Linked DNA regions of Homo sapiens. The protein of the gene in region 1 interacts with the protein of each later gene in a pairwise test. Each region holds a gene or a part of one and is shown on either strand. Other genes may lie near its edges.

Evidence for each region.
Region 2: the proteins of CD58 (region 1) and HERPUD1 interact in a two-hybrid assay, tested with the Homo sapiens proteins (one large-scale study listed by BioGRID and IntAct).

Annotation. Positions count from the first base shown.
Region 1 is NC_000001.11:116,542,265-116,548,293, reverse strand, and holds part of CD58 (lymphocyte function-associated antigen 3), read left to right. Parts: intron 1-1,333; exon of another isoform or gene 1,334-1,416; intron 1,417-3,469; exon of another isoform or gene 3,470-3,593; intron 3,594-3,689; coding exon 3,690-3,983; intron 3,984-6,029. UniProt on the Homo sapiens protein: Ligand of the T-lymphocyte CD2 glycoprotein.
Region 2 is NC_000016.10:56,935,142-56,938,641, forward strand, and holds part of HERPUD1 (homocysteine-responsive endoplasmic reticulum-resident ubiquitin-like domain member 1 protein), read left to right. Parts: intron 1-93; coding exon 94-171; intron 172-259; coding exon 260-334; coding exon of another isoform or gene 335-336; exon of another isoform or gene 337-350; coding exon of another isoform or gene 351-356; intron 357-1,545; coding exon 1,546-1,676; intron 1,677-3,500. UniProt on the Homo sapiens protein: Component of the endoplasmic reticulum quality control (ERQC) system also called ER-associated degradation (ERAD) involved in ubiquitin-dependent degradation of misfolded endoplasmic reticulum proteins.

The DNA.
Region 1 (6,029 bases):
CTTCTGTACAGCAATATAAACAATCAGCAGAGTAAACACACAACCCACAAAGTGGGAGAAAATATTCACAAACTATGTATCTGACAAAGGACCAATATCCAGAATCTATAAGGAAGTCAAACAAATCAGCAAGAAAAAAGCAAACAATCCCATCAAAAAGTGGGCCAAGGACATGAATAGACAGTTCTCAAAGGAGGATATACAAATGGCCAACAAACATATGAAAAAATGCTCAACATTACTAATTATCAGGGAAATGCAAATTGAAACCACAATGCAATACCACCTTACTCCTGCAAGAATGGCCGTAATTTAAAAATCAAAAAATAATAGATGTTGGCATGGGTGTGGTGGGAAAAGGGAACACCTGTACACTGCTGGTGGGAATGTAAACTAGTACAACCACTATGGAGATTTCTTAAGCAACTAAAAGTAGAACTACCATTTGATCCAGCAATCCCATTACTGGGTATCTACCCAGAGGAAAACAAGTCATTTTATGAAAAAGACAACACACAACATGTTGCACACAACATCTTTATAGTGGCACAACTCGCAATTGCAAAAATATGGAATCAGCATAAATGCCCATCAATCAATGAGTGGATAAAGAAAATGTGGGAGATATATATATATATGAATATGCCATAAAAAGGAACATAATAGGCCAGGCGCGGTGGCTCGTGTCTGTAATCCCAGCACTTTGGGAGGCCAAGGCGGGCAGATCACGAGGTCAGGAGATCGAGACCATCCTGGCTAACATGGTGAAACCCCGTCTTTACTAAAAATACAAAAAAAAAATTAGCCGGGCATGGTGGTGGGCGCCTGTAGTCCCAGCTACTCAGGAGGCTGAGGCAGGAGAATGGCGTGAGCCTGGGAGGTGGAACTTTTAGTGAGCCGAGATCACGCCACTGCACTCCAGCCTGGGGACAGAGCGAGACTCTGTCTCAAAAGAAAAAAAAAAAAAAAAGAACAAAATAATGGCATTCACAGCAACCTGGATGGAACTGGAGACCATTATTCTAAGTGAAGTAACTCAGGAATGGAAAACCAAACATATGTTCTAACTTACAAGTGGGAGCTAAGCTATGTAAGAATGATACAGTGAACTTTGGGGACTTGTGGAGAAGGGTGGGATGGGGATGAGGGATAAAAGACTACACACTGGGTACAGTGTACACCAGAATCTCAGAAATCACACCCAAATAACTAAAAAAAAAAAAAAAACTTATCCATGTAACCAAACATCACCTGTTCCCCCAAAACTATTGAGATAATAGTAATAAAAAAATTTAAAAAAGAAAAAAAAGCATAAGGAAGAAAATATACTTACTAAGTGAAAGTGGATCATCAAAGGTCTTCATCCTCATTATCTTCACGTTAAAGCAGGCTAAGTGGGAGGAGGGGTTGGTCTTGCTATCTCAGGGATGGCAGAGGCGGAAGAAAATCCACATGTAAGTGGACCCACACAGCTCAAACCCATGTTGTTCAAGGGTCAACTGTACTTTGATTTCTTCTGAGCTGCAGTCTCCCCTTTCTCTACCCTCACTTCCCTCCACCACTAGCTCCATTCCTGACTACTTTCTTCTACTGTTCTCAAGCCCAGGATACATCAGCTCTCCCTGGGAAAGACAAAAGACATCTTCATGCCGCCAGGGTATGGCAGTTTATCTCATACCTACTCTTTCACCACCACCCTGCCCTCTATCACTCATTGTTTCATTTACATTTATAAGACATTTTTGAGTTTCCACTATTGTGTGTGGTAGACTCTCACCCCTTGAATTCTGTACTTTTTCTTGTGCCTTCCCACATACTCTGTTGAGTGGAGGAAATAATGCATAATCGGCAAAGCAATGGAAAGATGCTGGTGTGTTTTTGAGGGCAGTTCCCCTTAATTAAGGGAGATGGGTTCTAAAAAGTCCTTGTAGATAAACAAATGGGTGATATTTGCTTCTTATCTGAAATTACTAACACAGTTGTCTACAACTGGTCATTCAGTGTTCTTGATTTCCCCTGTATTATTTCAATTACCCTAATTGCTACTAGGCAAAAACTTCAGTCAAATTTTAATTGCTCTTTAATGTTAACTTAAAATAGCTGCAGTTTTTTGTTTGTTTGTTGAGACAGGTCATGCTCTGTCACCCAGGCTGGAGTGCAGTGGCACAATCATGGCTGACTGCAATCTCTGCCTCATGGCTTCAAGTAATCCTCTTCAGCCTCCCAAGTAGCTGGGGACCACAGGTGTGTGCCATGCCCAGCTAATTTTTTGTACTTTTCGTAAAGATGGGGTTTCGCCATTTTACCCAGGTTGGTCTTGAACTCCTGAACTCAAGCAATCCAACCACCTTGGCCTCCCAAAATGCTGGACTTACAGGCATGAACCACAGGACCCAGCTGCTGTTCTCTCTTAACAAGAGACAAGTCCTAGAGCAAGATGCATTTAAACCCACTTTGGGGTATCAAAAATATCCCAATCTTGTGGTTCTAATAAATGTTTAACAACTAGGTTGGTATGGAGGTTCTGATGTGAAGCATTAGTCAGTTTCTGTGCTGTTACTAGATGTTCCCTAATAGGGCTGGGCAGAGATGCTAACAATTGGCTCATGAGGGCAGGTGGACCTGGCTCCAACCCACCACTGCACCCAATCCCTGAGTTCTTAATCTTCATCACACCCTCGACTTGCTTCCCAGCCATTGTTTCTGATCTCAGTTAATGATGCCTCTCAGTCAGCCAAGGAGACCTGACAGTCCCATCCACTTCCCCCACCCTCATCACTGAATCCTGTTGACTTCTCTCTCCAGCATCTCCTGAGTCTGTCCGCTTGTCTGTCCCCACTACAAACACCCTGCTCTGGTCTGTCCTGTCCATGGACTTCATTGCTACAGCATTGACTTTCATTATAATTTCCCTGCCTCTGTGCTGGCCCCTGTCAGCCGCTCTCTACTCTAAAGACAGTCAGCCTGCTGACACTTAAATTATGTTAGGCCAGTCTTGTTAAAAACCTTTCTGTGGCTTCCTCTCCATTAGGATCAGTCCAAACCCTTAGCGTTCCTTACTTTAGCACACATAGGCTGTGGGCTGGCCTTTGTCTGTCTTGTTCCCCACCAGCCACCCCTTGCCCTCCTCATTCTAGCTGTTAGGAATCACGTGTGTATCCTCAAGCACACCATGCTCTTTCTCCATTCAGGGCCTTCCTTTGGGGGTGCTGCTTCCTATATATCTGTATGATCATCTCTTCTTCCACTCCCCACCCACTCACCTACCCAGCCCTGCGGCCTAACTGCCTTTTATCCTTCAGTGATTTGCACGTTATGTCAGTTCCAGCATGACTTCCTTGGGGAGGCCCTAGACCAGGCAGCTCCCCTCATGCAGCCCCTGATGTAGAGCCTGCTCCCTGTCTTCTCCACACGTGAGGCTCCTGGAGGGCCTGGAACAACCCCATATTCCCAGCCCAGCCCGTACTACCTGGCAGATGGTTGGTGCTCCATGAATGTCGGGTCCATTTCTTGGATTTATGCAGGTCCCAGTTTTCTATTAAAGAGTAAGCTCCACATGGTCAAACATGTTCTTACTTCCTGTATTTTGTGTCAGCAGTTTGTCAGCTTAGCACAAAAAGTACCTGATGAATAATTTCTGCCACCAAAGTCATGTTGTTTTTTCTAACCAATTTTTTTTTCTCTCCTAGGTTTCATCAGCTGTTTTTCCCAACAAATATATGGTGTTGTGTATGGGAATGTAACTTTCCATGTACCAAGCAATGTGCCTTTAAAAGAGGTCCTATGGAAAAAACAAAAGGATAAAGTTGCAGAACTGGAAAATTCTGAATTCAGAGCTTTCTCATCTTTTAAAAATAGGGTTTATTTAGACACTGTGTCAGGTAGCCTCACTATCTACAACTTAACATCATCAGATGAAGATGAGTATGAAATGGAATCGCCAAATATTACTGATACCATGAAGTTCTTTCTTTATGTGCTTGGTGAGTATTCCATAAGTTGATTTGTTTAAAATGGCAAATTTCCATTTTTTTAGTCTGTTTTCAGAGACTAGCACAAATTAATGGTCTATGAGAAAAGAATTAGATGTTACCTGTTGTCAGGGTTTTCTCCTTTTCTGGTATAGAGGAGCTAGCTACTTTCAATTCCTTTGTCATTCCTCTGGGTGAGGAGAGAATCTAACCAAGGTGGGGAGAACAGTATCAGTTGTCTTACTAGGAATGTTTTGGAAAGAGATGTAGTGACAGCAGTTAGCTTAGAACTCTTTGGGCTCCACTGATAGATGTTACTCTATAAAGTTCCTGCTTCCCCACACAGCGGGGAGATTGTTTTTCCTCCTGCACCATTTTATTTAATTAATTTATTTATTTTGAGAAGGAGTCTCACTCTGTTACCAAGGCCAGAGTGCAGTGGCACAATCTTGGCTGACTGCAACCTCTGCCTCCCAGGTTCAAAGTGATTTTACTGTCTCAGCCTCCCAAGTAGCTGGGACTACAGGCCCGCACCACCATGCCCAGCTAATTTTTGTATTTTAGTAGAGATGGTGTTTCACTGTGTTGGCCAGGCTGGTCTCAAACTCCTGAGCTCAGGTGATCCACCCGCCTCAGCCTCCCAAAGTGCTGGGATTACACTCATGAGCCACCACACCCAGCTCCTGCACCATTTTAAACTGAAACTAGAGAGAGGGGACACATTTCTCCCTGCTTCTCACTGACACTCCTCCCTGGTCTCTAAAGCCCCTTTTGTGTTGCAGTCTTGTATAGGCCCCTGCCTCACATGCCAGTGTTTCTTGGTCATTTTAAGGCCTGCCTCATTTTCATTGTTTCTGACATTCCTGGTGTCTTGGTGGTTGCAATATTTAAATTAAAATTCTTTCAATATTGTCCTTGATCGCCTCTCCTGTAAGGATCTTTTCCTCTACGTTACCCACTACCCATGGATGTAACCGAGAACTCATCATTACCTCAATGTCAGGTGTCTCACTCTGACCACCATGCCCTGTCCTTGATGATGCTGATGCTGACAGTCCTTCACACACCTGATGTCCCTGCTGCCCTCCCTACTCAGCCTGAGTGCTGTTGTCACTCACTAGACTCAGTCCGTTGCAGACACACTTAGCTTCCTTGCTCCTTTGCTGGCTTGTCATACTCGCATGGCCAGATTACAGCTAGATTAAGTCCGCTGCTTTGCCTATTCTGTGCTCACACCCATGTGGTTGCAGAAAAATACACCACCCTACAAAGTCCTGCACTTTTAATTTCTCTAATCACTTACCTCAATTAAGTTGGTATTTCCTAGCCTGTTCACTTACCCACTCTCCTAGCAGTTACTTTTTCTCTCCTCAAATCTTGAATACCTCCTTCTCTAGACTGACTCTTCAGCTGAAGGCTTTGCTTCTTATTTCACTAAGGAGAATAAGCAATCAGAGGGCAATTTCCACAAGCTCTCACCACCTGCCTACCTTCCTACCCATACCTGAGCCTGTAGGCCCTGCTTTCTCTCCTGATATGAATGGACTTTCTGAGTTCTCACCTGAAGTTAAACTTTCCACGTGTGCCCTGGATCCCACCTCCTCTTGCCGTCCTCGGGAATATCACCCTAGTGCTTCTACCCACTCTCTCCTGATGAGAATTTCCCCCATAAGTTGATGGTTCATTTTAAGTGGCATACATATATACTGTCATTAAAACTTTCTCATGATCCCTGTACCCCTCCAGCCACCACCACCTGCTGTCTTCACTTTATAGAAAATCTCCTTGAAGAAGTTGTCCATATTCACTTATTCTGATCCCTTATATTCACTTTTAACCCACTCCAAATAGGCTTTCATCTGCACTGCTATGCCAAAACTCCTCTAGACCTCCTTGTTAATAAATCCAGTGGTTCATTCTCAGTCCATGTCATTCTTGACTTCTCAGCAGCTTTTGACATAGCTGATCACTCCCTCCTCCAAGTACTGTCTTCACTTGACATCCAGGATACCACCCTATTCATGTTTCTTTCTCTTTTTTCCTTGAGAGGGGGTTTCG
Region 2 (3,500 bases), on another chromosome or scaffold:
ATTCAAATTACTTGTATAAAACAGTTTATTCTGTGTTTAGGAACTTGTAGGGGTGAAATGCTGACCTGTGTTACTCTTTCTTTCCATGATCAGCGTCCAGAGGACCAGAGGTTAATTTATTCTGGGAAGCTGTTGTTGGATCACCAATGTCTCAGGGACTTGCTTCCAAAGGTACATCACTTACACATTAACTTCTGAATGTTTTTAAGCACTCACCAGGTTAGGTTCAGGTCCTTAAGTACCTTCGTATTACTTTTAGCAGGAAAAACGGCATGTTTTGCATCTGGTGTGCAATGTGAAGAGTCCTTCAAAAATGCCAGAAATCAACGCCAAGGTGTGTCTGCCTCTTCATGATGGTAACAATTTGTATCATTCAGACTTTCAGGGGAGTAATAAAAGAAGTTGGATAAAACGTTTATTGAGAGACTGTATGGTGTTATTACCAAGTAATATTTTGTTTCTTTCCTAGGAATTAGAAACTGTATTATCAACACAAAGTGATGAGTTAATAGTAGCAGATTGTTCCGTTAGTGCTGTAGTAGAAAGGTGGAGTTACATATTGCACTATCTTATGGGATATGATTTGATCTATGGTTACTGTGTATCTAGATTACTGAACTAACACTAATCGGGTTTTTATTGAATTTAGCACATAGCAAGTTTCTTCAAAGGAGTCACTAATTTTTATAAAGAGTACAAAAGTGAATATATTTCCTTTGGAAATTTTCATTGTGATTAGTTGGATAGGAAAAGATCAGAGTTTTTATCAAGTGATCTTTAAAGAATTTTTTTTTTTTAAAAATGGTCTCGCTGTGTGGCCCAGGCTTTTCTCAAACTCCTGAGGGCAAGCGATCCTCCCACCTCAGCCTCCTGAGTAGCTGGGACTACAGGCATGTGCCACTAGACCTGGCTCTAAAGACATATATGACACACGAAACCATTTATTTTTCATTTCACAATGTTTATTCACATATATGGTATTAGTATTCTAATGTAGTGATGCACTCTAAATTTGCATTATATTTCCTAGAACATCTGAACAGAGCATAGGAAATTCCCTATTTTGCCATTATCAGTTCTAACAAAAATCTTAAAAGCACTTTATCATTTCATTTCCCTGCACTGTAATTTTTTTAAATGATCAAAAACAGTATCATACCAAGGCTTACTTATATTGGAATACTATTTTAGAAAGTTGTGGGCTGGGTTGTATTTATAAATCTTGTTGGTCAGATGTCTGCAATGAGTAAATTTAGCACCATTATCAGGAAGCTTTCTCACCAATGACAACTTCATTGGAAGATTTTAATGAAAGTGTAGCATACTCTAGGGAAAAAATATGAATATTTTAGCATCTATGTATTGAAAATTATGTTGAATAAATGTCAGACTATTTTTTACATAACGTTGCTTCTGTTTAATTTTGTCACGTTCAGAGGTGGGGGGTAGGAGATGTAAGCCCTTGACAGCAAAATAATTCCTTTTGCTTGATTTCAGACAGTTGCATCAGCTCCTTTGTTCTGTGTTCATGTTACACTTATTTAGGTGGCTGAATCCACAGAGGAGCCTGCTGGTTCTAATCGGGGACAGTATCCTGAGGATTCCTCAAGTGATGGTTTAAGGCAAAGGGAAGTTCTTCGGAACCTTTCTTCCCCTGGATGGGAAAACATCTCAAGGTGAGTGTTATAATAAAGATCTTGGCTTATGCAACATGAATGTTCCTCGTTTGCATCAATTTAAGAATAAGGTATGTTTACACGTATATAATCAGAACTTTTAAACATACAGAATTTTGCTTTATAAATAGCTTCGCTTTAAAGATCTCTTATATATTTAACTTTTCTTAATACACAGCCTTTTAGTACACACAAATTTAAAAAGTAGGTAATGCATATATTGAAAAAAAAAAGAAAATGTAGGCGTTTTATCCTTCCATTGTGCTGACCGCTTGGTTGCCGTCATGATAGGAAATTAGTGCTGCTGCAGGAGAAAACAGCTGTCGTAAGCATTGTGCAGCTGCTTTGCTGAGTGGCTTTGTGCTTTATTGTAACAATGGGTGACAACAAGGGAGAGACTGTTTAAGAAGTGTCCTTCCAAAGACTTGGGGGTACTAGGAAAATTGGCCAATTTCTTATAACTATTAAAGCTTTTCTTTAGAGCAAAAGTCAGAACTAAATGCTCTGTTATTTGGATTTTTATAGCTCTTGGAATACATTGTTTTTGGGGAAAAATTCATTAACTGCAAGTTGCAATTCTGTAACTCTCCAATTCTCCGTCCCCCTTTTTCTAGTACTTTTTATACACAATATTTTATAAAGCCAGGTGTTTTAGGAATGAGTTTTTCTTCCTTTTCCCCCTTAATGGAACTTTCAAATATACACAACAGTGGGGACTGGATAATTAATCCCCACACCATCACCCAGGCCTAATAAATAACAATCAGAGTTTTACCATAGCTCATCTATTACCCTTTCCCTTTTTTTTAAAAAAAGAGTATTTAAAAGTAATTCCCAGGCATCATGTTATTTCATCCCTATATTCTTCAGTATATAACTATGAAAACCTTTTAGTTATCTTGTATATCTAGAATGCCATTATCAGATCTAACAGAAATCTTAAAAGCACTTTATCATTTTATTTCCATGCACTGTAATTTTCTTAAATGATCAAAAACAGCATCATACCAAAGCTTACTTGTATTGGAATACTATTTTAGAAATACTCTGTGTATGGAATTTAGTTAAAAGATTGTCAGCATATAAATTGGATAATTATTGGATAGAAAATTATTGGTTAGAAAAACTTAAAACTACTTCCCTTATTCTGATTCAACTATTCTTAACTTGAGAATTGAGGCTCATATTTGACTCTCTGAATCTCACCATATTTAAACTTGATTTCCTTTAACAAATATTTATTGAACAGCCAGTACATACAACTTTGCTTAAGGATATGAGTTGACCTGCAGGAATGACCACATAACCAATTTCTGATCTTTGGGCAATTCTATTATGGTTTCAATTTTGTGATGTGCTACTGAAGAAATTGACTGTGTAAGAAGCACAAAGCCAAAGATGACTCGCATACACCTGCCCTGTGAAGTTGAGGGCTGTGTGGCCTGATTAAAGAAGCATGCATTTGGCCGGGCGCGGTGGCTCACACCTGTAATCCCAGCACTTTGGGAGGCCAAGGTGGGCGGATCACGAGGTCAGGAGATTGAGACCATCCTGGCTAACACGGTGAAACCCCGTCTGTACTAAAAGTACAAAAAATTAGCCAGGTGTGGTGGCGTGTGCCCGTAGTCCCAGCTACTGGGGAGGCTGAGGCAGGAGAATGGTGTGAATCCGGGAGGTGGAGCTTGCAGTGAGCCGAGATTGCGCCATTGCACTCCAGGCTGGGCAACAGAGCGAGACTCCATCTCAAAAAAAAAAAAAAAGAAGCATGCATTTGACATCAGACCAGCTCTGAAATCCAGCCCTGCTACTTACTAGCTCAGTGAC